Regions from separate parts of the Homo sapiens genome. Here all the other regions are linked to region 2. Evidence: fine-mapped expression QTL. A gene starts in region 2. Each other region holds a variant in brackets. All regions are shown on one strand. Distances are from middle to middle.

Region 1 (6,372 bases), 470 kb before region 2:
TAATGGTTTTTGTTGTTGTCATTGTTGCTGTTTTGTTTTTTGAGACAGAGTCTCACTCTGTCACTCAGGCTAGAGTGCTGTGATGCAGTCTCAACTCACTACAACCTTTGCCTCCTGGGTCCAAAAGCTTCTCATGCCTCAGCCTCCCGAGTAGCTGGGATTACAGGTGCATGCCACCATGCCCAGCTAACTTTTTGTATTTTTAGTAGAGACAGGGTTTCACCATGTTGGCCAGGCTGGTCTTGAACTCCTGACCTCAAATGATCCACCCACCTCAGCCTCCCAAAGCTCTGGGATTACAGGTGTGAGCCACTGCCCCCGGCCAGTTTCATGTCTTTTATCTTTGTATCTCTTTGTGCTGCATTCAGCTAAATTCCCTTAGACCTATCTTCCAGTTCATAGACTTTCTCTTTATTTAGATCTAATATGCTATTTAATGCCACTGTGTTTTGTATTTTAATGATTCTTTTTCTATTAGTATACTTCTTTTCCAGATCTGTATGTACTTTTTTCATAGTGTCTTCTTTTATTTGGATTTTCTATTAATTTTATGCCTTTACTTATTTTAAGTATATTTGTATCTTCTTTAAGATTGTGGATTCATTTATTTTAGGTTCTTGAAGTTCTAATCCTGCTGGTGATTTTGTGTCTGCTGATTCTTACTCATTGAGTAGTATTTTCTCTTGTGTGTTGTAATTTTTAAAAATATAATTCAACCTTAAGGTGGATTCTTTTCTCTGTGGTGCTCCTATGCACCTTTGATTGTCTTGAGTACTTTTGCTCTTGTTTCTGCTTGCAGCCATGGACATTAGCAGCATGGAACTGATTTTTTACATTAATTTCTTAGCTCAAGAGTTCTTGCACACCGTGACAACATAAATTTGGGCCCCAAAATATTTAAGACATTGGCCTTGTTTTCCATTTCTAAGGGGTAATTTTTTACTTTATTTAACCCAGAGCCCAGGCAGAGGCTGACAAGTGTCCTTGTTTACTGTGCACCAGATTTTTTTCATCCTTTCACATAAAGCTAGAGAATAGTCCTTCAAGGGTCCCAGCTTTATGCAGACATCTGTGTTTCTACTCTCCATCTCATGGAAGGCCTATCCTAATCTACCTTAGAAGGACCATCCCCTTTACTCTTAGGGCAGCCACAGTGCCAGCTCTCCTGTCTACCTCTGTGATTTTTCAATCTCTTCTCTATTTCTGGAATCTGGGCATTTAGCTTGCTCTCGCAAGTTTAGTTATGCCCGTTAAGAAAAAAATTTGCATCTTATCCAGCATTTTGAGGTGTTCATAATCAGAGTTTTTCACATTCTCTAAGCTTACTTTCTTGCCAGATCTGGAAATTGCTTCATAATCACTTGACTTCTTAACCAAGGGCTTTGCACTAGGGTTGAGCTCTGCAGGTATACGTCTTGAGAAACAGAAGTGTAACCCCTTCCCAACTCCTTGCTGCCCTCTTTAGCAATTTTTTTGTGGAAGATGGCTATCTCTGGGAGAGAAAGTGTTCCCCCTTAAGTTTGAAATTTTATTAGAGGTGACACAAACAATGTAGAAATTCTTAATCACAAATTTTATATTCCTAAATTGATAGCTTCCTTTTATAGTTTCACCAAATCACAGTAGCAACCACCATCCTAAAACCAGAAGCAAGACAAAATTCAAAACAAGCAGGCCAACACCGACGCAGGAATTACATGAATACTGCAGATGAATTCTCTTGCAGTGTGCTTTCGTGAGCGTGAAATGAGAACATTGTGGCTGTTATATCTCTGCACTTTATTTCAGTTTTTGAAAGATCAATATATTTTGGCGTATTGGAAAGGTTTGATAAGAATACTTTATAACTGAGTTTTGCTAATCCAGTTCAAGGTATATGTCATTCATTTTGGGGCTGTTGGTAGCAGAAGGGAAGATTAGATTTCTAATGGAGTTGTTGGAAATGAAATTCAGAGAGCTTGTCTTTTGTCCAAAGATTCAAGCAGCAATACTACAAACTATATCCCTAAATCATCTCTCTCTCTTTTTGCTCTGCTTTGATTAACATTAGATGCCAAGAGTGTGAGCAGTTGAATATGCGTAAGATTGTGAAAGGGTGGGTATTCATTTTAGCTCTGTAGACTGGACAGCAACAACATTTATCATGCCCAGAATGTGGCATGAGAAATGAACAAGGTGCCACAGGGTAATGGGAAAAAAAATCAGGCATCTGGTTCTGGCCTTTCCCAAACTACAGACTATTACCTAGTGGAAATACCTATGGGTTAGGAATTAGAGGAGCCTGGAGTTCTTCCCTTCGCTGTATACGGGTAGGAGGTTTTGAAAGGGGCTAAGACAATATGGATCCCCATCAGCGTATCCTGTAGGTTGCAGTGCTCATCTTAACCTCAGGCTTGCTCTGCTCTAACACCCACTTTGTCAGTTCCCAGCTCTCATTTACTACAGAATTGAGTTCAGACTCCCAGCCCAGAGTTTAGTGTACGCCCTATCTTAGTATGTTTGTGTTGCTATAACAGAATACATGAGACTAGGTAATTTATAAGGAACAGAAATTTACTTCTCATAGCTCTGGAGGCCGGGAAGTCCAAGATCAAGGTGCCAGTTTCTGATGTATCTGGTGGGGGCATTTTTGCTGCATCTTCACATAACAAAAGGGCAAAAGGGCAAGCTAGCAGAATGCTGCACAAAGCCTCATTTTATAAGGGCATGAAACCCATTCATTAGGGAGGAGCCCTTATGGCCTAATCACAATCACCTGGGATGGTTTTTAAAACCTATTGAGACCTGGCCTCCCCTA[C/A]CCTAGACCAGTTAAATCAGAATTCCTGGGAAGGGGTCTTAAAGGTCCTACTTCTTAAAACTATCACACTGGCAACACCTGAATCTTGAAGGGACACAATCAAACCATAGCACTCCCTATCTAAATTGTTTGTCCAGCTCCACCTCCTTCTCTCCATCCCTACCAGACATACAGACTCTTCTCTGCTGCCCTGTACCGTCATGCCTTCTGCCCTCTGCCTAGAGTACCTACCCTGTCCCTTTTCTCCAGACCATCAAACACTCCCCTCCTCTTTAGTCTTTGCGGCCACTGCAGATGGCACCTTCTCTGTGAAGCCAGCTTTACCTTTTCCCCATGGCTGGAATTCATCTCCCCCTTAATCGGGTTCCCAGCTCCATGTTTATGCTCCTCTGGCACTTGACAGTCAGAACTGGCATTCTTGCAGACATTTATGAAAACAGCCTAGGGGTCAGGAACCCTGGGTGTTGGGGACAGTTCTGCCACTAGCTCTACATGTGCCTTTGAAAAGTCATGTTACTCTCTGGACCCCAGTTTTCTTGACCATAAAATGAAGGGTTAGGCTGGAGTTCACTGTGGTCCCATCCAGCCCGCTCTAAAGAGTGTTTTCTTCCCTTTACCTTTCTCAGCTGTGCCTAGCCCAGTCTCATGCACCTTCTGGGTGCTCAGAAACAAGTTTTAGTGGGGGCTGGACACCTACAGAATCTTCAAGGACACATAAGGCAGACGCACAAAGTAAGAGTCACATAGTGAGGAGGGTGTGCTGTAGTTTGGATTGGCGGGCGACGAGAGCACCCCCATTAATTCTGAGTGAGCAATTTCAACCTCTGGCTTTCAGAACTTTTCATGGAATCAGTTTTCTGAACTGTCTTCCTATTAAAAAAAAAAAAAAGCTGAATAATGAACCCCACAGCCAATTTGTTATTCCCCTCTGAGGTCATGTGCAGCCTAGAGAGAGGCAGTAAATCATTAGTCTACTGAAGGTCCATGGGAGCATGTGGTTGAGGATGAAGCTTTTTATAATGAGAAACTAAAAGTCTTTAAATAAGTTGAAAATGTAAAACTTGAGAGGCCAGAATCCCGCTTTAGGCAGGCGTCTCTTGCTCTTTGTACAGAATAGAGTCATTTTTCAAAAATACTCCTTTTTTATAACCTGCAGAGGGTGCTGTGAGGCATGAAGCCACTGAGACTGCTAGAATTCCCATTGCTACAGCTGTTCCATGAGTGACAGCTGTTATTTGTTGAATGCCTGTCACATGGGAAGCTCTTTATTATTAAGTGCTTTACATATGCTTGTTAATTAAACCCATTGTTACAGATGAAAAAACTGAGGCAGGGTGTGGGAGCTGTAAGTAACCTATCCAACGTCACATAGTGGGCAGGACTGGAGTCTGAGCCCAGGTCTGTGGGCCCCTGTCGCTCCTCTCTACCATTAGGCTTCAATGCCTTTCACAAACCTCATCCCTCCGACTTATTAAATGGGGCTTCTTGGTCCCAAAATCTGGAGGCCCATGGTTCAGAAATTTGGGGTGGCTTTTAAAACTCCTAAAGACCTGGACCCCTCCTAGGAATTCTGATTTAACTGGTCTAGGGTAGGGGAGGCCAGGTCTCAATGTTTTAAAACCATCCCAGGTGAATCTTACCTGGTTGAAAACTCCTGCGTGATAAGCGCTTTAGCCAAGGCACAGGCGGAGGGCTGTTGAGCACCACGGAGGGAACAGAGGAGACTCTGGGACCTGGCGAGGGACTGGGGCAGAAGGGCTGTTCCAGGAGCCGGCGTGGGTGAGCAGGACTGCGGGAGGATGTGGGCAGCCGAGGCAGCAGGCCTCCAAGCAGACGGGTCTGCGGGAGACACAGGGGAGGGGAGGCCTGGGCTACGGTGTTGGCTTGGGCAGTCAGTTGGGCCCGATGGGGGCCTGATGTGCTGCAGGCAATCCCCAGTCTGGCCTCATGATTTTCGGATCTCTGCTGCTCACCGGCTCCTCCTCCTGCCAGCTTCCCTGCCGCGCTGGGCATGGCTGTTCCTCAGCAAGGAGCTCTGAAGCCAGGTGGGATGGAAGTCCTGTGATTGGCCTCTCAGAGTCTTTGCGGAGCTTTTCCACATGGGGGTGGGGGTGACAGGGTGCTGCAGTGGCTGTGTTTGCAGGTCTTGTTGGCAGGCAATGTGCGGCATCATGGGGTCAGCTTCCCAAACGCCAGAGAGGGGTGGATTTGTTGGCTGCTTAGCCCCCAAAATATGCATGGAGATGTGCTGGGATGTTAAGAAAGTTTAAACCCTGAGGACAGAGCTAAGAGACACTTAGGAGAGAACAGAGCTAAGAGACACCTAGGAGAGAAAGAGTGTGGAGATTGTGAGTGAGCCTGTGTATGTGGTGTATACGTGTTTGTGAATGTGTGTGTGTGCAGAGGTGTGAATGTGTTTGTGGATGTGTGGGAGCTTGAGTACTTGTGTGAATTGTGTGTACACATGGGTGTGTGGAAGTGCGACAGCGTATGTGTGTGCAGCTGTGTATGAGTGTAGGTCTGTGTGAGTGTGTGTAGGTGAATGTGTGTGTGCTTGAGAGTGTGTATGAATGTGTTGTGTGTATGTGCATGAGCGTGAGTCTGTGTGTTTAGGTCTGTGTGAGTGTGAAGCTGGGAAGCTGTGCAAGTGTCTGGATGTGTGTGTCTGGATGAGTGTGACTGAAGCTGTGTGAGTGTGTCTGGGTATATGTATGTCCCTGAGTCTGCATGACTGAAGCTGTGCAAGTGTGAAGCTGTATGAGTGTGTGGGTGAGTCTGTGTGAGTGTGTGTGGGTGTGAGTCTGGGTGTGAAGCTGTGTGTGGATTTGAGTCTGAGTGTGAAGCTATATGAATGTATGGGTATGACTGGGTGAGTGTGTGGGTGTGTGTGGGTGAGTCTGTGTGTGTGAGTGTATGGGTGAGTCTGTGTAGGTGTGAGTCTGGGTTAGTCTGGGTGTCTGGATGAGTCTGTGTGTGTGTGGGTGTGTGTCTGGGTGAGTGTGGGTGTGGGTATGAGTCTGGGTGTGTGTGTGTGGGTGTCTGGATGAGTGTGTGGGTGTGGGTGAGTCTGTGTGGGTGTGTGGGGGGGGTGTGTGGGTGAGTGAAGCTGTGTGCGTGTCTGTGTCTAGGTGAGTCTAAGTGTGAAGCTCTGTGGGTGTGAAGCTGTCAGTGTGTCTGCATGTGAGTGTATGGGTGAGTCTGTGTGAGTGTGAAGCTGTGTGAGTGTGTGTAGGTGTGTCTGGGTGAATCTGAGTGAAGCTATGTGAATGTGTCTGCGTGTGAGTGTATGGGTGAGTCTGTGTGAATGTGAAGCTGCCCTGGGACATATGTGCATGCACATATGTCCCAGGGCAGTTTGCTCAGCCCCCAGAGATTCCAGGCGGCTATTTCTGCCTTGCTCTGACCAGATCCGGCTTCAGACTGTGATGCATTATGCTCTGAGTGGAGTTTCTCTAGCCTCCTTTTCCTCATTTCTCTTGAATAGCTGGGGAATGTCCGTGCCCCCCTCTCTGAGCTGTTGCTTAAAATCATGTAAGGCCTCAGCACATAGTAGGTGGTCAGTCCACAGTGGCTCT
Region 2 (5,552 bases):
TCTCCCACTCGGCTCCAACTTGCAGGTGTCCGTGGCCAGCTAGCCTCTGAGGGTGGCAGGATGCACCCGAGCAGCACGGAAGGTGCGGGGCTCGGGGGCCAGCAGCCTGGGTGGCTCTGGCTGGCTCTGGCTGGCTCGGCCGGGAGTGAGGAGAGTGTCTCAGCCACTGCCGCTCTGCCAGGTGCCAGCAATCCACAACAATGTGGAGCCACGTTCGCTGCTCTTGCTTTCTCTGACTTCCTTTCCTAGTTTCTCTTTCTTCTCTGCTGCTCTTTCCCTTGCCTCTTTCTTCCCCCAAGAATAGGGGAAAGGGAAGTTTTGAACATTTTTCCTATGACCGGAAGTTTCTGTGAGGTTCAATCTCCCCCTAATGGGGATTTTTCACCTCTTTTTAACCTCCAAGACACCTCGACTAAGGAATACTTCACCACCCCCGCCCCCCCTCCCCGCGGCTTTTCTTTCCTTAGTCCTAAGGAATGCTTTACCTTGGTATGTCCCAACCAAAGAATGCTTCACTGCCCTGTGGCTTCTTTTTCCTTAGTCCTGACCACCAAGGAAGTATTTTACTGTCTCCCCTGGCATTTCCTTTCTTGGTCTGTGCAGAGTTGCCTGGTCCAGGTGGTATGTGAGGATCTTTTACTCCAGGTCACCAGCCGGTTTCTTTCCACATTGCTGAGAGTCCAGTTTATTTGTCATAACTGGTGGGTCTCGATTCCTTACCCTGAGGCCGCTACAACAAGGCAGTGGGGCGCCTTCCTCATGAGAGAGGACCAGAGACCCACCCCCCCACCCCCGGAGGAGAATGGCTCCCTGTACAGGCCACCGCCATTGTTACAAGTAAAATGTTTATTTAGAAACAGAATGCTTGCTCCTAGGTACTGCAAGGAAAAACCAGCATTTAGACAAAAAGTTTTTTCAGCAAGGCAATTTTACTTTCTGCAGAAAGGGTGCTCCTCACAGATGAAACAATGGTGACAGCACACCCGAACAAAGGAGGGAAGCAGTTTTTATCCCTTATGCAGCTTGTGTCCTGTCTCCATTGGCTGGAGCTGGACCTCACAATTTAAATTAAACCCGACTGGCTAATAACTTAAAACTTTCCTATATAGGGAAAGGCAATAGAGAACAAAGGAAAAGAAGAAGTTGCTTGCAAAAAGACTTAGAAAAGTAATAATATTTCCAAATAAGGAAGGGGCATAGGCTGCAAGCTGGAACGTGCCTGTGAGCATGTCCAGCACAAATATCTTGGTTAAAGTACAAGGACATAGAATATACTTATTCCCTTATATCTAACAGCTACATAGGATAGGGCTTAATGAAGAGTCATTAGCACAGAGCAGAGGAGGCTTGAAGGAAGTTAGTCTTTAAAAGAAACTATTATTTCTAACACTTATGATTTATTCTTTAACAAGAAAGGAAATTTCGAAAAGGAAACTTTTTACTTTCTACAGGCTGATGAGTGCAGCTAATCCTCATTATTATAAGCATCACTATTATCATCACTTGCAAGAGCCATGTGACAATATTTAGATGATTCTGGGTTCTTTTAAAGTGCATACATACTCAGGATTCCTTTGGGAGGATGCAATTTCATTTATATGAAAAACTGTCACTACCACAGTCAGCTCTAATAATATTTGATATCACCTGGTAATAAAGGTTTGTCGGCTGGGTGCGGTGGCTCACGCAGCACTTTGGGAGGCCAAGGCGGGCAGATCACGAGGTCTGGAGTTCGAGACCAGCCTGGCCAGTATGGTGAAACTCCATCTCTACTAAAAACACAAAAATTAGCTGGGCATGGGGGTGGGCACCTGCAGTCCCAGCTACTTGGGAGGCTGGGGCAGAAGAATTGCTTGAACCTGGGAGGCGGAGGTTGCAGTGAGCTGAGATCATGCCACTGCACTCCAGCCAGGGCAACAGAGCGAGACTCCGTCTCAAAAAAAAAAAAAAATAGTAAATAAAAAATAAAGGTTTGTCACCATATACTCAAGAGTACTTCTGTTATTCAAATCTCCTAACTGGGAGTTACAAATATCTCTGACTCTGCTCTTGTAGCTGTCAGAGCATAAAATGCCCTTCCCACTCTTTCCTCACTTCCAGACTCCAAAGCCTCCTCCTCAAAGTTTGGCCCCTCTACTTTGGACTACTGTTTTCTTCCCAGTTACTGCGCACTGACAGTACTTTTGTTCTCTCTTTCGGCAATTCACCATACACTTTCTAGTTTATTTATCTGCATAAAACTTAGTTCTCAACAAGACTATAACTGCCTTATGAACAGGAATCAACAGTTGAGAATCTTCAGAGTCTCCTATAACATCATGTAAGAGCTCACTAAATGTTTGATTTAAATAACTAGGCTTAAGAGTAATAGGCTGGGCATGGTGGCTCATGCCTGTAATCCCAGCTCTTTGGAAGGCCGAGGCGGGAGGATCACGAGGTCAGATCGAGGCCATCCTGGCTAACACGGTGAAACCCGTCTCTTCTAAAAATACGAAAACAAAAAATTAGCAGGGAGTGGTGGCCAGTGCCTGTAGTCCCAACTACTCGGGAGGCTGAGGCAGGAGAACGGTGTGAACCCAGGAGGCGGAGCTTGCAGTAAGCCAAGATCTCAACAGTGCTAAATGCATACATGGATTATCTTACTAAATTTTCATAACTCTATAGAGGTAAGTGCTATCATTATTTTCTCCATCATAGAGGAAGAAAGTGAAGCTCAGAATAACTTGCTCAAGGTCATACAGGCCTGGGCAAACCCAGGGCCTGAATCCAGCAAAGCTCTTAACTACCTCAGAACACTGCACAGTTCGAGCCCTGCAATACTACAGTCTATGAATGATTTCGATTTCACTAAGTTAGAAATTTGAATTTCAACAGAGACATTTTAGCTAAAAGGTAAAATTTTAAAGAGGATGAATTAAGAGAATTTCCCACAGACATCTTTATAATAAAATGAGGAGAAAAGCCTCCCATTTCCTATTTATGAAAGTGATATTAAGGTGTGTGTCACAATTTCATCAAGAAGTGGCTTATGACAATACAGCTTTGGTTTAGGTATTAAAATAGGACTCTTTTCTGCCCATAGGAGGACATGGAAATGAAGGATAGATGTGATAAATGTCAATTCAGAGCTCTGCAAAATGCCAGACTCAATTCTTGTTTTAAAATATCAGAGCCAGGGCTCTTGTTTCACCCTTGATTCTTCACACAAAACACCACCATCCTCTGACCTCTTCACACAGAGCAAGCTTTACCCCACTACCTAAAGGGGAGTGCTGATCCACATGGTCTCCCCATCCACGCTAGAAATTGATCCCAAACACCAACCGCTGCATAGACGTCGGCGACTTTGGTCTGCACCCCCCGAACTTGGTGATACCTCATCAAGCCAAACCCCTCCCCAACATCCAAAATGCCCAGACCAGCATCCGAAAGCTGGTCTCCTATACAAAGCAGAATCCCTGCCTACAAAGCAGTTTCCCACCTCCGACTCCTCCCCACGGCGAACAGCCCTTCTGGATCCAACCAACCCACCAACCCCAATAGGGCCCAGCACCCAGAGGGTCCACAATCCAGAGAAGGAGCTACAAGCCCTGTACTTGCAAGCCTCGAACCCCCAACTCCAACTGACCTCCCCTCTGCCAGAGCAAGACCACGAGTACCCGCCGAGAGCGGACCTGGCTGGCTACACAAAGCCAGGCGCCCGACCAGAGGGATCCTCCGGGACGTCCTCCGCCACCGGGGCGTCCCCGCCCAGCCCCGCCCGGCGCCCGGCGCTCACCAGCTCTCCTCCCCCTCCTCCTAGCCTGACAGACGCTCCAGGTCGTCTAGCAAGCCGCCCTCCCCCGCCGCCAGCAAGAAGGTGGCGTCTCGCAGCTCCTCGTTATTCGTCCGCCTCGGGTCCATCCGGCCCCGCCGCCCGACTTTGCGCTGAGACCCAAGGGGAAGCCCCGAGGGGACCCCGCGCCGTAGGAGGGAGTGGAGGAGCCGGCGAACCGCGATGGAGCCGGGGCCCAGCACAGCGCGAGCGGCTCCTCGGCTGTTCGTGCTGCTTCCCCAGCTTCTTCACCGGCACCTGCAGCTTCCGCACCTCCTGGTCCGCGTTCACGTTAGAGTTAACGTCCTCCATCCCGGCCCCGCTGCCTCCGCCGCCCGCGGCCCTCTCGCTCTCGCAGCAACAAGGGAAGAGCCGGAGGAAAGAGGCGTCCACGCCGCTCACTCCAGCCGAGGCCCCCGCATATAGCAGGGCCAGGCCCCGTCGCCAGGGTTCCCCCAGCGCGGGTCCCGAAGCACCGCTGGCCACAGATGAACCGCCTCCTCAGCGCAGGTCCGGGATTCGGGGAGGCAGCGCCAATATCCGGTCTCTGCAGCCATCTTCCCTCCGTCCCTCCGCCCACCGAGGGTCGGCCCTGTAGGTGACCTCAGAGCGTCGGGGATGGGCGTGGCCCCGTCGGGCGCTAAGAAGACCTAGCGCAGAGAGGACCGCCGAGCTCCCGACGGGGCGGGGCCAGGTGTGTGAGGGGCGGGGATTGGACCCGGAGGGGCGTGTCTGGACTGCCGGCGGAAGTGGAACGCGGCCTGACCTGCGACGGAAAGCCACTGCAAGCCCGGAGGCGAACAGAAGGCATTCCGCGAGCCGGGCTGAGTTGGTGAACACGGTCCTCGTTCACCCCGCCTATTGGTCTGGGCGTGTGGGGTATTCTCCACCCACTTATACGGCGTGTGGGACCGACGGGCCCGTCCTGCCCGGCTCCGGTCCGGATCTCGAGTAGGCGCTCAATGGGATTCGGGGAGACGTAGTTTACTTTGTTCAGCAAATATTTAACCGATGCCTATTTTAATGGGAGATTGTTTCCGCTGGCGGGAGCCTCAGAGACCGCCTGTGTCCTTTAAGAAACCCGAATTTCAGACAGTTAAGAGAGGTCTAAGGTCAAAATAATAATCATAATTTCTTCTTACTGGCCAGATACTATGCTAAGCCCTTTTTAATTTTATTATTATTATATTTTGTCACCGAGGCTGGAGTGCAATGGCCCGATCTTGGCTCTGCAACCTCCGCCTCCCGGTTTAAAGCGATTCTCCTGCCTCAGCCTCCCGAGTAACTGGGATTACAGGCGGGCGCCACCACGCCTCGCTGATTTTTGTATTTTAGTAGAGACGGGGTTTCGCCATTTTGGCCAGGCTGGTCTCGACCCTGACCTCAGGGTGATCCGCTCACCTCAGCCACTCAAAAGTGCTGGGATTACTGGCGTCAGCCACCGCGCGCCCGGTCGTGCTAATCACTTTGAAAGGCATTATCTCATCGGTTAAAACATAGTTTTCCGGACTTAAAAGTTTACAGCACACTGGCGCAGAAGATGGAAAACCGCTGCTTGCCTTTCTCCGTTTATTGACTCACATTCTGCTCTTTGGATCATTTTCTTCGGAAAAAGTTTTCCAAAGTGTGTCTTGTGTATTAAAAGTTGTGTATTAAAAGTATTTGAACACGCTGACAGATACTGAAGAATGCAGAAAATTGTATGAGTGTGAAAATCTGCCTTTACGATGTGTACTAG
Region 3 (6,372 bases), 200 kb after region 2:
CTCTGAATTCTAATGAGAATGCTAATAAAAACTAAAGAGTATATTCTGTGTTTGATTAATAAGGAAAACTACGTAAAGCTACTTTTAGATTAACTGGCCTAAAATTTTATCGTCTGATTATAACTAGTTAGAAAAAGCGATTTCTTGCTTTTACCTTGAGGGATCGGGGGTTATCGTTTAAGTCTTAGATTTCTTTTTCAGGCATCTTTTTCTTTCTCATAATATATCCTGACCTACTCCTGAAGTCCTTTGGAAGCATGTTAAGTGAAATGTTAGTCTTATTCTGCAAGTATTACTACCGTGTATTAAAAAAATACAGTCTTGTCACACATTATCTTTGTTTAATATCATGATGTAGTACTCATATTTGTTTATATTGTAATGTGTATATATATATTTTTTAACTCTGAAGTCACATCATTTAGAAGCCTGCATACAGCAATACTGGTTTCATTTTTATTCTGCTTTTAGGAACCAATATATTAAGTTCCTACACTGGGGTTCCTTTTTTCCAGTTCATGATAAGATATGTTCAGTTTTGCTATGCCAGAATATCATTTACAGCTTTGTCTTAGGGTTCTTTAAGCATGTCTTTATCATGCTAGTTTTCATTTAGTGAATTCATGTGGTACTTGAAATACACAAAGGACATATACACTGTTGCTTTGTTTCCAAGGCAGTAAAATTCTGGTCCAAATTAGTCTCTAGTTTTAAAGCTCTATGATTATGTTTAAGTTATTAAAAAAAAGTATGTCTGTGTTCTCATCTTAATTATCTACTTAGATATGTTGAACTCTTACTGTGTCACATTAGTTAATATTCATGTGTAGAGATCACCTTTTAAAATGAAATATTTTGCTTTTCTAGCCCTGTATCAAATCAGTCACTTTTATCAGAATCTGTAGCATCTTCTCAATTGGACAGTACATCTGTGGACAAAGCAGTACCTGAAACAGAAGATGTGCAGGGTTTGTATATGAACTAGCATGTATTTTGTTATTTGAGTATTATAGGCCAGACACTATCCTAGGTGCATGTATAAAAAAATTGCCAGCTTAAAATACATGTTTTTCTGTTTTCCCTATGAACACAATACTTTATATCTTTAAGTATTTAATTAACATGTTGGGGAGCCATTTCACACTTACATGTAATTTTATCATCAGCATAAATGTTGCAAATTCAAAATTTGTTTAGTTTGGAAAATATAATTAAATGAATGTGTGGCAGTGTTACACTGTTCTCTTTTACTATTTTGGCCGTTTCAGTCTATATACTACTCTGTAAGAAAACTGGGGCTGCTGGTTTGAGGGGCATCTCTTTCTTTTGTGTTTTGACTCATTATCTGAGAGACTGTGTCCATCGTGCCTGGCAGTTCTCCTTTTTTCTTCCCCATGTGTGCAATAGTCACATTCAGTTGCTCGTATTCACAGCATGGTATCTATCGTGTCTTGCCCATGCTCTTCATATCCCCATTATGAAGCTCAAAGTGATCTAGGAAGACTTGAAAATTTGTATGAAGGCTTTCGTAGTAGGGAGAGAGAATGCGGAGTAGGCCATTTTGGAGGCTATTAAATAATCTCTGCTTAATTAGTTGTATTCTAGCAGTGTGTGGAAATAACATGGTAACAAGGAAGGATCTCTGGAAAGATAAGCCTAATGAAGAGCAGTGTGTCATTCTGCCTGTGAGATGATTTACCAGTGAAACTTCATTGCACATGGTGTTCACATGATGGTAACAGATACATCTGCCAATCCTAGTTTAAGATGGCTAAATTTTTAATTTAGGCCAGGCACTGTGGCTTGTGCCTATAATCCCTACCTACTTGAGAGGCTAAGGCAGGAGGATCGCTTGAGTCTGGGAGTTTGAGACTAGCCTGGACAACAAAAAATTAGCCAGGTGAGGCGGCACATACCTGTAGTCACAACTACTCAGGAAGCTGACGTGGGAGGATTGCTTGAGCCCAGGAATTCAGGCTGCGGTGAGCTATGATCGTGCCACTGCACTCCAGCCTGGGTGGGCACCAGAGCAATTCCCCCACACCCGGTCTCAAGAATTAAATAAACAAATTTAAATAAGCTAGGTAGTTCCTCTTGCTTTTTTTTCATACCCAGCAAATACTTGAACCAGTTTGCTTGTTTGTGTAGATTTTGCCGTAACAAAAGAATATTCTGTGTGGTCAACGTAAATATTCTAGTCCCATCTAGCATATTGTGATAAATTCTTAAATGTTTTAAGTGAATAATTCTTATTTCTTAGTTACATCAAAAAATTTAAGGAAGGGCAGAAATGAGGAATCTTTAAAGAAATAAGGAAAAGACTGGGCGCGGTGGCTCACGCCTGTAATCCCAGCACTTTGGGAGGCTGAAGCGGGTGGATCACGAGGTCAGGAGATCGAGACCATCCTGGCTAACACGGTGAAACCCTGTCTCTACTAAAAATACAAAAAATTAGCTGGGCGTGGTGGCGGGCATCTGTAGTCCTAGCTACTGGGGAGGCTGAGGCAGGAGAATGGCATGAACCTGGGAGGCGGAGCTTGCGGTGAGCCGAGATGGCGCCACTGCACTCCAGCCTGGGCAACAGAGCGAGACTCCGTCTCAAAAAAAAAAAAAATTTAGAATGTTGGCAGTGAAAAAAATGTATAAAGCTTAAGAATACAATAGTATTTACAGAAGTTTGACAAAGAATAAAGGTCATAGATTGGTGAACTATCATAACACATAGGAAGTGTTTTTATACCATTTATTTATAAAAGTGTTTTTATTTCCATTTGTGGTGTATGGAAAACAATACCGTTTTCTCCACTTAGCCCTGAGTATATCACTTCAAAAGGTGGTCCTGATGCCATATTAGGAGAAATTGTATAGGCCCCATTTTTCATACATGATTTGAATGACTTTTAGGTTAAACCAGTATTAACTTGTAAGTACCTTTAAAAAACTTAGCATTCGTAATATCAGCAGCAAATCTTTGATAAATTAGGTATAAGTTTCATCTCAGTTTTAAGAGAGGAGGGTTAGGTTCCAGTATGTAAAATCTCTTAACAACCTAGTTTTTAAAAAAAATTTAACATATTATTGAATTAAGAATACCCTTTTTATTATAAACATACACAAATATAAACATGTATGTTTGTATATATGTACGTGTATATTCTGTATGTGCACACACTCATACACTTACATGCAATTACGATTTCCCTATTGATCAAATTCAAATAACTTTTTTTCCATTTATTTAATAGATGGATGAAAAGAGACAGAAAAAGTCTCTTTGAGTCAGTCATATGGTCATAAAAGCTGGAACTGGAATCCAGGGACCTAACTCATAGAGGCCAGTATTCTTATGATTAGACAGTTGTGGAGCTTGTTGGACTAGGATGTGGATATGTGTATTCCTGTTAACACATACATCTCCCTCAGTTCTCAGGGTAGGATCAACTCGTTTAGCAAACTACCCAGGTATCAGTTTTCTTCTTCCTCACTCCATATGCTTCCCTCAAGGGAAATTTATATAGATAGGAAA[ACCATC/A]CCAAATGGAAGAAGGTATATGAGTAGCAGCTATATGTCTAAGCCAGAAGTTTGTAACATTTTGTAATTGGAACATTCAGAACAACTTTTTCTCTACATGTATTCTGCTTATAATTAGGATATGCTGCCACCAGGTTGGTGGTACTGCTTTCATATTGGCCACATGGCTCTGAAGAATTTTTATGTTTCATTGAGAATTTAGCATATTGAAGCATGTTTCTTAGTTGTTCTTTTTGATTTAAAAATATAGCAGTACCTTACTTACATAGTGTCACTCAGGAGTATAAGTCAAATTTCCAGTTCACAAATGCTAGCTTTTAAAAGAACTACTTTAAGCATTTTGGTACACTCTAAAACTGTTGAAGAATATGCTTAAATTTGGTCAACCTCTTAGTCCCTCAGATCTTGGGTCATAGTAGAAAAATACTGAATTTGGATTCATAAGTTCTATTTTCCTATCTTGGTATGCCTGCTTAACTTCACTGAGCCTTACTTTCATTACTCTTAAAAGAGAATAAGAATGTCCCTCTTACAGGGTATTAAAAGATACTGAGATAATGGAGGTTGGATGAGCTTTGTAAGCTGCAGAAGATATTCTTTATATTGCCCAAGTGATTTGGGAGTTGTAGGAGGCCTAGAGTAAGAGAGAATTTTGAAGCTTTCCAACACTCGAATGATGTCATATGTTAAGATGGTAAGGTCTACATCACTGAAGCATTCTAGGAAAGATGAGTTGATGTTAGAGACCATATAGAGAGAGGAATGCTGTGCTTAGTGACAGGATGAACTAGAATTCTCAGGCTCTTTCCTACTCTGAGGGTTTCTGACTTTATACAAAGTTGAATTGTCAAATCATTGGTTCAGAAAAATCAGAGGGGGACAGTCTCTTTGGACTGATTTAGGAAAGCTGTATGGGTTTTAAAAATCAGGCATTTCTTCTGATTCTAAAGAATGAGTGAGAATAGCCAAAGGTATCTTGAAAAATAACAAAGTTGGAGGACTAACAATTCCTGGCTTCAAAATTGAGTACAAGCTACAGTAATCAAGACTGTGTTGTACCGGCATGAGGATAGTCATGAAGGTAAGTGGAATAAAAAATTGAGAGTCCAGAAATAAACTCTTATTATATTTATGGGCCATTGACTTTCAACAATGGTGCCAAAATCATTTGATGGGAAAAGAGTAATCTTTTAAACAAATGATGCAGGAACAACTTCATATCCACATTCGAAAGAATGAATTGGACTCCTATGTCATACCATATGCAAAAATTCACCCGAAATACATCAAAGACCTAAAACGAATATAAGAGAACTATAAAACTCTTAAAGCAGGTATACATTTTTGTGATCTTGGTTTAGGCAGTGGTTTCTTAGATATGACACCTTAACCACAAGCAGCCAAAGAAATTATAGATAAATTGAGCTACATCAAAATAAAGATTTTTGCTTAAAAGAGTGGAAAAACAGCCAGGTGCAGTGACTTATGCCTGTAATCCCAGCACTTTGGGAGGCCAAGGTGGGCAGATCACTTGAGCTCAAGAGTTTGAAACCAGCCTGGGCAACATGGCAAAACCCCATCTGTACAAAAAATAGCCGAGTGTGGTGGCGCACGCTTGTAGTCCCAGCTACTGGGTAGGGAGGCTGAGGTGGGAGGATCACTTGAACTTGGGATGTTGAGGCTGCAGTGAGCCATTAACGCACCACTGCACTTCAGCCTGGGTCACAGAATGAGACCCTCTCTCAAAAAATAAAAGAGTGGAAAACCAGCCTACAGAATGAGAGAAAAAATACTTTGAAATCATATATGTGATAAGGATATATAAATAATTACAATTCAACAATAGAAAACCCATTTTAAAAATAAGCAAAGGATTTGAGTGGACATTTCTCCAGAAAAGATATACAAGTTTCCAATAAACACATGAAAAGATGCTCAACAGGGCCGGGTGCGGTGGTTCACATCTGTAATCCCAGCACTTTGGGAGGCTGAGGCGGGCGGATCACCTTAAGTCAGGAGTTGGAGACCAGCTTGGCCAACATGGTGAAACCCCATCTCTACTAAAAATATGAAACTTAGCTGGCTGTGATGTCATGCGCCTGTAGTCTCAGATACTCGTGAGGCTGAGGCAGAGGAGAATTGCTTGAACTTGGGAGGTGGAGGTTGCAGTGAGCTGAGATTGTGCCACTGCACTCCAGCCTGGGCAAAAGGGCAAAACTCCATCTCAAAAAAAAAAAAAAAAAAAAAAAAAACCATGCTCAACTTCATTAGATATGAGGGAAATGGAAGTCATGGGACACCACTTCGTATCCACTAGGATGGCTCTAATCAATAACAAAGTATTGTCAAGGATGTAGAAAAATTGGAGCCCTCCTGCCTTGGTGGGAGTGTAATATGGTGCCAGATACTCTGGAAAACAATCTCCTAGCTCCACAAAAAATTAAAAAGAATTGTCATATGACCCAGCATTTTTCTCCTGATTGCCAGGAGAATTGAAAACATACGTCCACACAAAAACGTGTACACAAGTGTTCGTAGCAGTATTATCTATAATAAAAAATAGAAACTACTGAGATGGCTGTAAATAGATCATTGGATAAAAAAAAATGTGGTATATCCGTACAGTAGAATATTCAGTCACAAAGAGGAAGGAAATTCTGATACATGCCACAGTATGAGTGATCCTTGAAAATATGCTGAATAAAAGAAGTTAGGTACAAAAGGCTACATGTTGTATGATTTTATTTATATAGAATGTCTAAAACAGGCTAGTCATACAGAAAGATTAGTGGTTGCCAGAAACCGTGGGAAGTGGGGAGTAATTGCTAATGAGTACAGAGT
Region 4 (6,372 bases), 82 kb after region 2:
CATCCCAGAAGAACATCTAAAATCAAAAAGTCTGACAATACCAAGTGTTGGTGAGGAGTGGAGCAATGGGAACTCTCTTACATTGCTTTTGGAGTGTAAATTTGGAAAAGGTTTGGCAGTATCTACAAATAAATCAATATCCTGGCTTTGCAATCCCATTCTTAGTATATACCCAAGAGAATCTGTGCTATGTGCATCAAAAGACACATACAAGAATGTTCACAGCAATTTATTTGTAATACCCCCAAACTGAAACAACCCAAATATCCAACAACAAGGAGAAAAGATGAACAGAAGTTAGAATAGTGATGGCCTTAAGGATGGAGTTGTAATTGATTGGGAAACCTTATGGTTTGCTGTAAATATCCAACTTGCTCTGAATAGAGGTTCTCTGGGTATAGATGTACGTAAAAATCTACTGAGTTGCATACTCAAGCTTCATACAACGTATGCACTTTCTGCATGTTATATTTCTATTTTAAATATTTTTAAAAGCTTCTACTAGATACTATAAAAGAACATATTCATGACGAATATTTCTTAAATAGGAAATTAAGGCCCGGCGCAGTGACTCACACCTGTAATCCCAAAAGTTTGGGAGGCCAAGGTGGGTGGATCACGAGGTCAGGAGATCGAGACCATCCTGGCTAACATGGTGAAACCCCGTCTCTACTAAAAATACAAAAAAATTAGCCGGCCATGGTGGCTGGCACCTGTAGTCCCAACTACTCAGGAGGCTGAGGCAGGAGAATGGTGTGAACCTAGGAGACGGAGCTTGCAGTGAGCCGAGATTCTGCCACTGCACTCGAGCCTGGGCGACAAAGCAAGACTCCGTCTCAAAAAAAAAAAAAAAAAAAAAAAAAAAAAGGACATTAAAGCACTAATAGTAAGGAAAGGACTGATAGATTTCACCATGTTAACAATTAAAAACTTCCCTTTATCAAAAGATGACGTTAAGAGAATGACAAGCCTCTGAGTGGTGGGGGTATTTGCAATACTTGTAACAGACAAAGCATTATATCCATATTATATAAAGAGCTGACTCTATGTACATGTTTGTGTATGTGTGTGTATACCTACAGAATAAGGAAAGAAAAATACAGAGCACACAGTAAATAAATGAGTAAAAGACATGAATAAGCACTTTGCAATAGAGGATACTAAATGGCCAATAAATATATGAAAACGTGCTCAATCTCAATAATCAACAGGGAAATACAAATAAAAACCATTTACGGGCTGGGCACGGTGGCTTACGCCTGTAATCTCAGCAGTTTGGAAGGCCCAGGCAGGTGGATCATTTGAGGTCGGGAGTTCGAGACCAGCCTGGCCAACATGATGAAACCCCGTCGTGGTAGTGGGCACCTGTAATCCCAGCTACTTGGGAGGGTGAGGCAGGAGAATTGCTTGAACCCAGGAGACAGAGGTTGCAGTGAACCGAGATCACGCCACTGCACTCCAGCCTGGGCAGGAGAGCAAAACTCTATCTCAAACAAACAAGCAAAACTATTTACACCCACCAAAATGACTAAAATTTAAAAGACCATGTTACCAAGTGTTGGGACAGATATAGAGTAGCTGCTTCTCTCGTATACGGCTGAAGTGTAAATTGGTACAATCACTACTTTGCTGTATTTATTAAAGTTGGTGATATGCACACTCTAAGATCAGAAATTCCATCTCAGGTTTGTACCTAGCAGAAATACATGCATGTATAGTGCAGGAGACATGCAAAAAAAATGCTGATAGCAGCATTACTCAGAAACATCAAAAACTAGAAATAATCCAAATTTTCAAAAGAAAAAAAAAAGCAGGAGCTGAATATGGTGGCGCATGCCTGTCATCCCAGCTACTTAGGAGGCTGAGGCAGGAGAACTGCTTGAGTCCAGGAGTTTGAGTCCACCCTGGGCAACATGGTGAGATCATGTCTCTTAAAAAAAAAAAAAAAAAAAAAAAAGACAGGAAAGTGGTTTCCTTAAAAGTCAGTGTTGGAAATAAGAGCTCGGAGTCGCAGGAAAAACAAGCACTCAAACAATAGGTTTCTCAGCAAAGCAAGTTTACTTCTACAGAAGGCTGCCGCTCATGCTTCTGGCCGCTGCGAGCACAACTAACAAAGGAGAGGAGTTTTTATCCCTAACATAGTCCCTATTCCTGTGTCCTTCCCCTATTGGCTAGGGTTGGACTGCACAACCTAAGCTAACCCCAGTTGGCTAAGACTTAAACTTTTCAGCCGGGCATGGTGGCTCACGCCTGTAATCCCAGCACTTTGGGAAGCCCAGGTGGGCGGATCACGAGGTCAGGAGATCAAGACCATCCTGGCCAACATGGTGAAACCCCGTCTCTACTAAAAATACAAAAAAATTAGCCGGGCGTGGTGGCCCGCGCCTGTGGTCCCAGATACTCGGGAGTCTGAGGCAGGAGAATTGCTTGAACCCCTGGAGACGGAGGCTGCAGTGAGCTGAGACTGCACCACTGCACTCCAGCCTGGCGACAGAGCGAGATTCCATCTCAAAAAAAAAAAACAAAAAAAGACATACTTTTCCAATTAGGGTAAACGTGCGATTCGCAAGGGAGGGTGGGGGATAGGAGTGGTCCCTCTGCTACAGCACAAGGCGTGTTCGGACATGTCTGGGCAAGTCCGGGCACAACAAGAGCGGGAGGGCTGCTCACAGGCTAGAAACAAGAAAGTACAAGGAGGTGAGGCTCCGAACCAAGGACAAGGACATTACACAATTAAACCCTTTGAAGACGAATTCACCATCTCTGGCAGTCAGAATGATAGAGGGAGACAATTGCAGATAGAACAAGGCCTTTGGGAGAACGGGGAGTTGAAGTGGAGGAGGTGATGCTGGAGTACTGGGAATGTTCTATTTCACGATGAGTGTGAATTACAGTTTATGGAACTGTGAGTTTATGTTTGATAACACTTCTCCAAGTAAGTGTTACATTTTGCAATATTAAAAAAAAAAAAGAAACTTTAAAATTAACAGGGAAGGCCGGGCGCAGTGGCTCAGGCCTGTAATCCTAGCACTTTGGGAGGCTGAGGCGGGTGGCTCACCTGGGGTCAGGAGTTTGAGACCAGCCTGACCAACACGATGAAACCCCGTCTTTACTAAAAACACAAAAAATTAGCCGGGCACGGTGGCAAGTGCCTATAATCCCAGCTACTCGGGAGGCTGAGGCAGAAGAATTGCTTGAACCTGGGAGGTGGTGGTTGCAGTGAGCCAAGATCCCGCCACTGTACTCCAGTCTGGGCAACAAGAGCGAAACTCCATTTCAAAACAAAAAAAATTACAGGTAAAAATCAGTAACATGTAGGACTTGACCAGATAGAGAAGGGAAGGAAGGTTTTTATAGACAGGGCAGAGAGCACGAGGGAGATACAGGGCCTGGGGCGTACCAAGCTAGTGGATTGGCGGAAGTATGGAAGGCTGTCTGAAGGTCCCACAACAAGGAAGCGTGCAGTGGGAGACAAAACCAGGACAATTCAAGGCCAGGCTATGAAGGACTGTGAATAGAACCACCACACATGACTGAAATTTGTGCCCTGCATCCAGGTACCAGCCAAGAGGGCAAAGGTATTCACCCTGGCATGTGCTGGGTCTGCTGGAGGAAGAGAAATTCTTTTCTAATTGCACAAAACTTCACCTCATGGAGAAGATAGTATCTCCTTATATGTTGTTTTTTCTGTAATTTGAATGTTTAAAAATATATATTTTTTATTTATATATGTATATACTATATATGTATATATAGTATATTATATATTCCGTTAATTTTAAAGTTTCTTTTTTTAATA[C/T]GTATATAATATAGTATATATTATTATATATAATTATATAATATAGTATATATTATTATATATAATTATATATATTATAAAATATATTATATATAATTATATATTTATATATTATATAATATATAATATATTATATAATATATTTCTATATTTATATATTATATATTATATATTATATATTATATATAATTTTATATATTATATTTATAATTATATATATATAATATATATATATATAATATATATATAAAATATTATATATTATATAATATATAATATATATTATATTATATAATATATAATATATATTATATTATATAATATATAATATATATTATATATGTGCATATATTTTATATACTATATATTATATATTTTATATATAACATTATTATATACTATATAATATATTTTATATATAACAAATATATTATATAGTATATAATATATTATATATTTTATATATTATATAGTATATAATATGTTATATATTTTATATATTATATAGTATATAATATATTATATATTTTATATATTATATAGTATATAATATATTATATATTTTATATAGTATATAATATATTATATATTTTATAGTATATAATATACATTTTATAGTATATAATATATTATATATTTTATAGTATATAGTATATAATATATTATATATTATATTATATATTATATAGTATATAATATATTATATATTATATTATATATTATATAGTATATAATATATTATATATTATATTATATATTATATAGTATATAATATATTATATATTATATTATATATTATATAGTATATAATACATGGTATATTATATAGTATATAATACATGGTATATTATATAGTATATAATACATGGTATATTATATAGTATATAATACATGGTATATTATATAGTATATAATACATGGTATATTATATAGTATATAATACATGGTATATTATATAGTATATAATATAATATATGGTATATTATATAGTGTATAATATATGGTATATTATATAGTGTATAATATATGGTATATACCATATAGTATAATATATGGTATATACCATATAGTATAATATATGGTATATAACATATAGTACAATATATGGTATATAACATATAGTATATTATATAGTATAGTATATATGTGTATATATAAGGTATTTTATATAATATATAATATATTTTATATATTATATAATATATAACATAGGTTATATATAATATATTATATGTGTTATTCTATATATATATTATATAATAGAGAGAGAGAGAGAGAGAGAGAGAGAGAGAGAGGAAGGATGTGGGACTTTATCCTGGAGGCACTGCTGAATGATAATATGCATCAGGCCTCCTCCCAGCATCAGACTCAAGTCCCTGTAAGGCTTCTTCCCTACCCAGATTAGAGGGCTCTGGAAGAGGAGCCACTAGTAATTCTTCGTCTTCTTTGGCATACCCTCCAGCAGCCTCGGAGCACTCTGTGCCTGTGAGGTTGCTGAAACATTGCAGACTGACTGGCTCCGGGCTTCCATCCATCACCATTACTGGGGCTGGGCCAACACTGGCATTTTAAAGGATTCAGCAATTAAGGTCATTAGTGGAATAAGGTGATCTCACAGGTGGAGCAGGCCTCAGCTGCTTCAAAATACAAAAAGATCAGACTGTCTCCTGAGATTTTTCACAGGCAGGCTTTGTTGATTATGGTGTTGAAAGGGGCAGTAAAGTCTTAACACTGGGTGCCAAAGGCCTGTGGCAGTCCAGGTGGGTTGTTTCCTCAATTCCTCCTTACACTCCACACCCTTGCATCTCTTTTTTTTCTTTCTTTCTCTTTTTTTTTGAGATGGAGTCTCGCTCTATAGCCCAGGCTGGAGTGCAGTGGTGTGATCTCGGCTCACTGCAACCTCTGCCTCCTGGATTCAAGCAGTTCTCCTGCCCCAGCCTCCCGAGTAACTGGGACTACAAGCACGTACCAACACACCTGGCTAATTTTGTACTTTTAGTAGAGTCGGGGTTTCACCATGTTGTCCAGGCTGGTCTCAATCTCCTGACCTCAGGTGATCCACTTGCCTCAGTCTCCCAAAATGATGGGATTACAGGCGTGAGCCACGGCGCCTGGCCCATCCTGGCATCTCAATTCTTCACAGCAAAATTCTTGAATTGGCTGAATATCTTGGAAAACGTCCTCTCACCTTCATCAGTGAGTAAGAACACTAATATAAACAAACATCATTCAAATTAGCTAGAAGGTGAGCTAATGAGGACGAGTACTGGGCAGTAAGTGGGAAGTCCTATTGTGTTGACCATTTGTCCTGGAGCACAGCAGCACCTGTTGGGCTCCCTGCTGGCCTCCTTTCCTGTGCCTGTGGTTCTCTGACTCTCTTCTACAGACTCTGTAACTCCCATGTCCCAAGCTTCAAGACTGGGAGAATTAGGGAGCTCCAGAAGCTTTGAGGGGCTTCAGCAACAAGGCAGTCTGGCTGCTCGTCCCTGTGTCACAGAGACCTGAGTCTCTGTCCTGAAAACCCATCTGGCCCCTAGCCTTCTTAGAACCAGTGTACTCAGCCTGGGTCTCCA
Region 5 (6,000 bases), 24 kb before region 2:
AGCTAAAATAATTCTGTTTGAACGAACGAATTAACATCTGTATAGATTCCCTCATACACACCTACATAGATGAAGAGAGGGGTGAAATGAGCATATATGCTTTACTGCTTTAACCCATAGGCACCTTGAATTTGAGTAAATAACGGATAATAGAATAGTGAAGGGTAATTAAGAAAGCCTGATGGTATAACTAATTCCAAGGAACATCAAGTTTCCAAATATCTGGTGTCTCTGAAGCATGATGCTGGGAAGACAGATCATCAGTTTGACTTACAACAGAATTACAAATACGTACTTATTCAGGGGACATTAAATTTTTCTTCCTCTGGTGTCTAACAAAAATGAGTCCCCAAAAACTCTTTAGAACATGCCTTCACAACAGGATATGACTGCCATTTTATTGATAAGAAAACTGACATTACATAGACTAAAAATACATAGCAGTGCAGTTGGTGAAAGTAATGAAACAGAGGTCTGCTAACCAACAAACACGGACCCTCACTTATTCCTCTCATTTCTCTCTTCTGTTTCCTACGTTCTTGGGAAGCCTGGATATGATAGCCAAGTCTTCCTTTCGTTCACTCAAGAAAAAGCATTTAATGTTGACCAACTCTGAGACAGGAAAAGCCTAGGCCCTGGAGCTACTGAGACACAGCCTTAGCCCTCCATATGCTTAGTGAAGTCCAGTCAACCTCTGAGTTCTGCCCTTTGGCATCTCCACACCTTTTTTGGTGTTCCCTCGTCTAAAGCACCTGCATCTTTCTCTGGCCATTTTACTAATATAACCGGAGTCTTACTCGTAGCTCATTAACTTTAGGCCTCACTGAGGGAACCTGGGCACTCAGGTGTTCACCCATCTCCTCTACCACAACTTTCTGTTCTCACCGTGCTCTCACCACAGCACCGTCATCCCCACGGAGGGTTTTCGAGCACCAAAAGAGCCACCCATGCAAACAAACTCCCCTCCCAGAGATAAATCTGTCAACCCCTGCCGTCCTCTCGCTCTTTAGCCCCACAACTTTCACTACCGGGCCCTCTCCCCGCCATAGTGCCAAGAGCGTCCAGACCACGACTAGGGGGCGTGCGCGCGCCGGGAGGGGAAACGTGCGCGCGCCGGGGGGTGGGGGGGCGCCTAGCCCAGCGCCAGCACGGACCATGCACAGATCAGCAATCGCTGGCCGCCAGGCCTTCGGAGGGTCTGTCCGCCGCGGCTTCCGCTACGGGCGGCCTCGCACCTTCTGGCTCAGTACGCGGGACTGGCGTAGCCGCTCCTCGGCACTCATCGCCCGCAGACGCTGCTTCAGCTCTCCCCGCAGGCTCCGCTTGGCGCTGCTCACCGCTGCCGCCGCCATCTCACGCCCAAGCCGAGTCCAGTCCCGCCCTCGGCGCCCTGGGCGCCCTCGGGTTCGGTCTCCGCCCCTGGCCGCTCCCAGGTGGATCCGCGGCCTAGGGGCGGGTCGGGGCTCGGGGAAGCGCCCCCACCCCGCTTCCGGGACGCGGGCCCGCGGCGCGCCGCGCGCTTACCTCGCCTCTGGCCCTTGGGACCCAGCCCTCGTGCGGTCCCCGTGGTCCGGCTCGCCCTCCCCGGTTAGGGGAGCGGTGGCGAGGCGCCGTCGCTGCCCTGCCGCCTGACCTCCCTGAGCCTGGGCCCTCACCGGGACCGCGGAGGCGGCAGCGCCACTGGCGGGGATGGTAAAGATGGCCGGCAGTACCCACGGTGCCTGGCATCTCTTGTACTGTTCAGTAGTGGGACTTCAGGGGCCAGAAAAGAAGGGCAAGGCAGGACATGTAGCGAAATCGTCACGAGTCGCTTAACTACAGGGATAGGTCTGACAGATGCCCCGATTTCCTTCTTGTGCAAACATCAGAGTGTAGTTACACAAAGTTACTACACACCTATGCTACACACCTGTACAGCGTATTTTGTACCGAATACTGTAGGCAATTGTAAGCACCGTGATACTTGTGTATCTAAACACAGAAAAGGTAATGTGTTGGTTGGCTACCACATCAGTAGGTATTAGGAATTTTTCAGCTCCATTATAATCTTAAGGGACCACAGTGGTTGATGGAAATGTCCTTATGTGATGAATGTATAGATGATACATAATCGGGAACACTGCTAAAGCAATAACTGTAGTGTAAAAGCCAAATTTTGCGGGTTTCTAGTGTGAATGTATTCCAGGTAATAGTGCCCACATAGGTACTTCCTGTTATAACCATCAGTGACTGTTCATTCCCACCACTCAGCTCTGATTAAAACACAAAAATGAATTAAAACTAAAAGCAGTTGGGGGGTGGGTGAGGCACTTGCAGGAAGAGGTAAAAGAAACTGTTAAGTCTTAAACTGCTCCCAGTAGACAGGCGCCTCAGATGGCATAGACGGTTGCCTCTCAGATGTGACTTCCTAAGAAAACCAGAGCTGTCTCTGCCAAAAATACGTCCCTACTGACCGCCCCAGTGTCTTAATCCCCACCGTTAAGAATCACACCTCCTAGGTAAAGCATTAATTAAGTGCCCGGTGAGAATGCACATGGCTTGAGAGGGGAGTTCTGGCTTCTTTATGGAATCTATCAACAGCTTCCAGGGAAAGCTAATGCAAGTCCCAGGGGGACTGTGTTGTAAGAAAAAGGGAAGGCCAGGCAGGTACAGCGTATACATAGTGCAATTAGATTTGCTGACCTAAAAGTTAGAACACGAGGTCTAACAAACTACGTACTTTTCTAATCTGTTCATTTTTACCAAAAAATAAAAATTAAAATTAACACTAGCTCCACGTTGAATCATTTACCAATTTTCTTTGTTCAGAATATCCCAGAGTATCCTGCATATCAGGTTGCCATATCCATCAACCCCAAATGGCAAGCCAGAGAGAGAAGGCTGGGGAGGAGGCATCAATGGAAACTCTTAAGCAGCCAGGGGCACTGGAAACTGCAGAAAGCATGGGAAGGAAGGAGGGAAGAGGGAAGCCGACCTGAGTCTGCTTCTAGCCTGAGTCCGCTTCTCAGTCTAGTCTGCAGTCTAGCCTAGTGACACAGAAAAGGACTTTTGGGGTAATGGCACACCTTAAAAGTCTGCCTGGGGCAGAAAAGACACCGCCTTCCTGGTCATCATCCCATAATTAATTGCCTGGATCCTGTGTTGAGCTTTTACCCTTTGGCTGAATTTCCAGCCAGACTCCAAAACTGAAGACAAAAATGGCATATAGAGAAAAATACATACAATTTATTCATTAAATAGGGACAAAATTTCTGTAACTCTGGAAGGTCAAGTTACATCATCAAAGTTGTTTATTTAAAAGTAGAAGTATGTGTTGGCAATCGTTTTCGTAAGAGTCAGAAAAATTAGGCCGGTTTCAC[A/G]ATATGGAGTGTCCTTTCTGGTCAACAGTATTGCTTCAGGACAGAAGAGCATTTCACAGATCTTTCCTGTAACTTCTAGAAAAGTCATCCAGCCAGATTTAGGCTCAAGCTTCTTTACAAAGCCATTTTCCTATGAGAGAATAAATTTAACATTTTAAAAATCATTGGAGATTAAGTATGCTGGAATAAAAAGCAAAAATATTTTCATTTAAATAATGCAAATAATCTTCTATCCCTCTAAAGGAGCATTGTGTAACAGAAACACAGTGTGGCCTACATCTGTAATTTTAATTTTTGGTAGCCACATTTTAAAAAGTACAAAAATAGGAAAAATTAATTTTTAAGATATATTTAGTGATAATGATTTCTGTATGTAATCAATGTCAAATCACTAATGAGATAGTTTTTTTCATAACAAACCTTCAAAATCTCATGAGTATTTAGTACTTACAGCGTATCTTAATTCAGACTAGCCACATTTTACTACCATAGTGAACAGCAAGCACAGCTCTAGAGGATAAAAAGTCTTTTTGTTCTTGTTCTTGTTTAATTGTCCAACATTGATTTCAATGCACTTATATTTGTAATATGAATTCTATTATACTGTAAACTGCATTGTATTGAAACTCATGAGAACTCACAGTAAATCCAAATTAAACCAATACCTTTGAAGCTATGAAAAGGTTGATGGTTTCTTTTATAATCTACTCTCTTTGTGATCGGACATAGTTTTAAAAATGTAGGATAACCCAATTAACTGGACATTTTATTTAATTTACAATCTATAATCATAGAATCCTCACTGAAAAGTCCCTCTGAGATCATCTAGCCTAATGCTCTCTCTTAACAAATGAGGAAAGTGAGGCCCACAAAAAAAATCAGTTATCTAAGATTAGCCAAACCCTTGGTGCCTGGACCTGGATTAGAATGCAAATACCCTACTTCTTTCCACTCCATACATTTCCAAACAAGTGCCAAAATATTCGAAAATTGTTAAAATAATTTTTTCGAATGTTCATCTAGCAAACATTTGTGGCTGCATCTTACAGGTTCCAGAACCTGGGGTTACAAATGCCTGCAAGTAGCTCAGAGCAAAGTGTAACTAATATTGAAACGTAAACCAAGCATAACCCTTTGATAGTTGGGAGAGATTCGAGAGCTCTGCGGTGCCTTGGAATCATTTTATGAACATCACTGGCAAAGCAGATGAATACCACCAGCCAGGGGGATTTCATTTGAAAGACTTAGAAAGCCATTTTCTGCCTACGTAAGTGTGCGTCGTGCTCTGAGACATGCTGTCATGCCTTGACAGAGGAAGGAAACTGCCCCTCTTCTTCCTCTTTCCCTTCTGCCAGTACATACTCATAGATTACACTCTAGGGAGGTATCCACTTCATTACGCCCCTTCCTAAACACCATATTTCGCAAGTATGATGAGACCCTCTGAAATGACTTTTATTATAACGATAATCATTGTCTATTATCATTGATCAGTTAACATGTCATATACATCAACGTCTAAAGAAAGGACAGTGAACAAAGAAAATATTGATAAATTCAGCCAGATGAAGATTAAAAATTTTTTTAACTATGAAAAACTAAAAAGAACAATAAACTAGGAAAATATTTACATATACCATGAAAGTGTTCATTCAAATGTGAGAGAAAATTCTCAGGCCCTTAATAGTTTAAAAAGGAGAGACCATTAAACAGAGAAATATAAATCATTCACAAGTATATGAGAAAAACATTAATAGCAGTTAAAGAAATGTACATTTTAACAAAGTCTTATTTTTTTTAGACCTATTAAAGTGGCTTTATTTGATGCCTATTAAACCCTCAAAATTATTAATAGTACCACCCACACTGATAAGGTTGCTATGATATTGTTCTATTGATATAATACTTTCGAAAAGAAAATATGTTTTCCAGTATGCTAGAATATCGTAATTATACACACATCTTATGAACCAGTTACTCCACTGTTAGAAATTTATCATGAGGCAGTCTTCTAAAATATTGGAAGGTAGGGGGCACCAGAAAAGCATACCTATGCTTCACTACTGAACCATTATATCTAAAAGGGGAAAACCAGGCTGGGCGAAGTGGCTCAGAACTATAAACCCAGCACTTTGGGAGGCTGAGGTGGGGAGATCACTTGAGGTCAGGAGTTCGAGACCAGCCTGGCCAATGTGGTGAAACTCTGTCTCTACTAAAAATTCAAAAATTAGCTGGGTGTGGTGGTACATGCCTGTAATCCCAGCTACTGAGGAGGCTGAGGCAGGAGAATTGCTTGAACCTGGGAGGTGAAGGTTGCAGTGAGCCAAGATCAAGCCACTGCACTACAGCCTGGATGACAGAGTGAGACTCTGTCTCAAAAAATAAATAAATAAATAAAAGGGGGAAAATCAAAACCAAATTGTCTAACAATTGGGAATTGGTTAAGTAAATTATGATATGGCAAATTAATGAACTATTCTGTAGACATTAGAAATTAATGCCTAATGTTAACATGGAGTATGTGAGACAGTGTTGAAAATATTTGTATGTCACACCAAAAAACTCTTATGTACACCCTAATTATAATTGCATACAATGTCTGCATGTGGATATGTTAGGGTGATGGGAGTGACTTTTCTTC

Alleles and levels. Positions count from the first base shown, and alleles are read on the strand shown. Sizes are in standard deviations (SD) of each study's normalised expression. Not every link is listed here.
For the expression in neutrophils of the gene that starts at base 3,407 in region 2, allele C in region 1 goes with a lower level than allele A (moderate effect, 0.45 SD a copy in BLUEPRINT).
With allele T in place of C in region 4, the expression in regulatory T cells of the gene that starts at base 3,407 in region 2 is lower (large effect, 1.3 SD a copy in Bossini-Castillo 2019).

The links.
Region 1: its variant is fine-mapped to the expression of ST20-AS1 in neutrophils (BLUEPRINT, PIP 0.95).
Region 3: its variant is fine-mapped to the expression of ST20-AS1 in skeletal muscle (GTEx, PIP 0.97).
Region 4: its variant is fine-mapped to the expression of ST20-AS1 in regulatory T cells (Bossini-Castillo 2019, PIP 0.95).
Region 5: its variant is fine-mapped to the expression of ST20-AS1 in whole blood (TOPMed, PIP above 0.99).

Annotation. Positions count from the first base shown.
Region 1 is chr15:79,446,864-79,453,235 of GRCh38, forward strand. The region is part of intron 1 of MINAR1 (membrane integral NOTCH2 associated receptor 1); the gene reads left to right. Among named protein-coding and RNA genes, the nearest start is that of MINAR1, 18 kb to the left of the region's middle. The variant C/A (reference allele first, on the strand shown) is at 2,798.
Region 2 is chr15:79,919,365-79,924,916 of GRCh38, forward strand. It overlaps ST20-AS1 (ST20 antisense RNA 1), which reads left to right and starts at 3,407. Exons shown (of 1, transcript NR_028330.1): 1 at 3,407-5,490. It overlaps ST20-MTHFS (ST20-MTHFS readthrough), which reads right to left and starts at 3,728. Exons shown (of 4, transcript NM_001199760.2): 1 at 3,675-3,728. ST20 (suppressor of tumorigenicity 20) reads right to left here and starts at 4,388. Exons shown (of 3, transcript NR_037653.2): 1 at 4,088-4,388. RefSeq lists silencers at 3,546-3,655, 3,676-3,745, 3,756-3,805, 4,426-4,575 and enhancers at 4,106-4,285, 4,716-4,765, 4,967-5,552.
Region 3 is chr15:80,121,833-80,128,204 of GRCh38, forward strand. It overlaps ZFAND6 (zinc finger AN1-type containing 6), which reads left to right. Exons shown (of 7, transcript NM_019006.4): 5 at 868-968. Among named protein-coding and RNA genes, the nearest start is that of FAH, 28 kb to the right of the region's middle. The variant ACCATC/A (reference allele first, on the strand shown) is at 3,527.
Region 4 is chr15:80,000,723-80,007,094 of GRCh38, forward strand. No RefSeq gene overlaps it. Among named protein-coding and RNA genes, the nearest start is that of BCL2A1, 33 kb to the left of the region's middle. RefSeq lists enhancers at 885-1,657, 1,658-2,429, 2,193-3,392, 2,430-3,202, 3,203-3,973. The variant C/T (reference allele first, on the strand shown) is at 3,800.
Region 5 is chr15:79,895,637-79,901,636 of GRCh38, forward strand. All of the region lies in intron 2 of ST20-MTHFS (ST20-MTHFS readthrough), which reads right to left. It overlaps MTHFS (methenyltetrahydrofolate synthetase), which reads right to left and starts at 1,378. Exons shown (of 3, transcript NM_006441.4): 1 at 1,236-1,378. The coding sequence starts at 1,352. ST20 (suppressor of tumorigenicity 20) reads right to left here. Exons shown (of 3, transcript NR_037653.2): 3 at 3,206-3,489. RefSeq lists a silencer at 1,387-1,686 and an enhancer at 1,827-1,876. The variant A/G (reference allele first, on the strand shown) is at 3,360.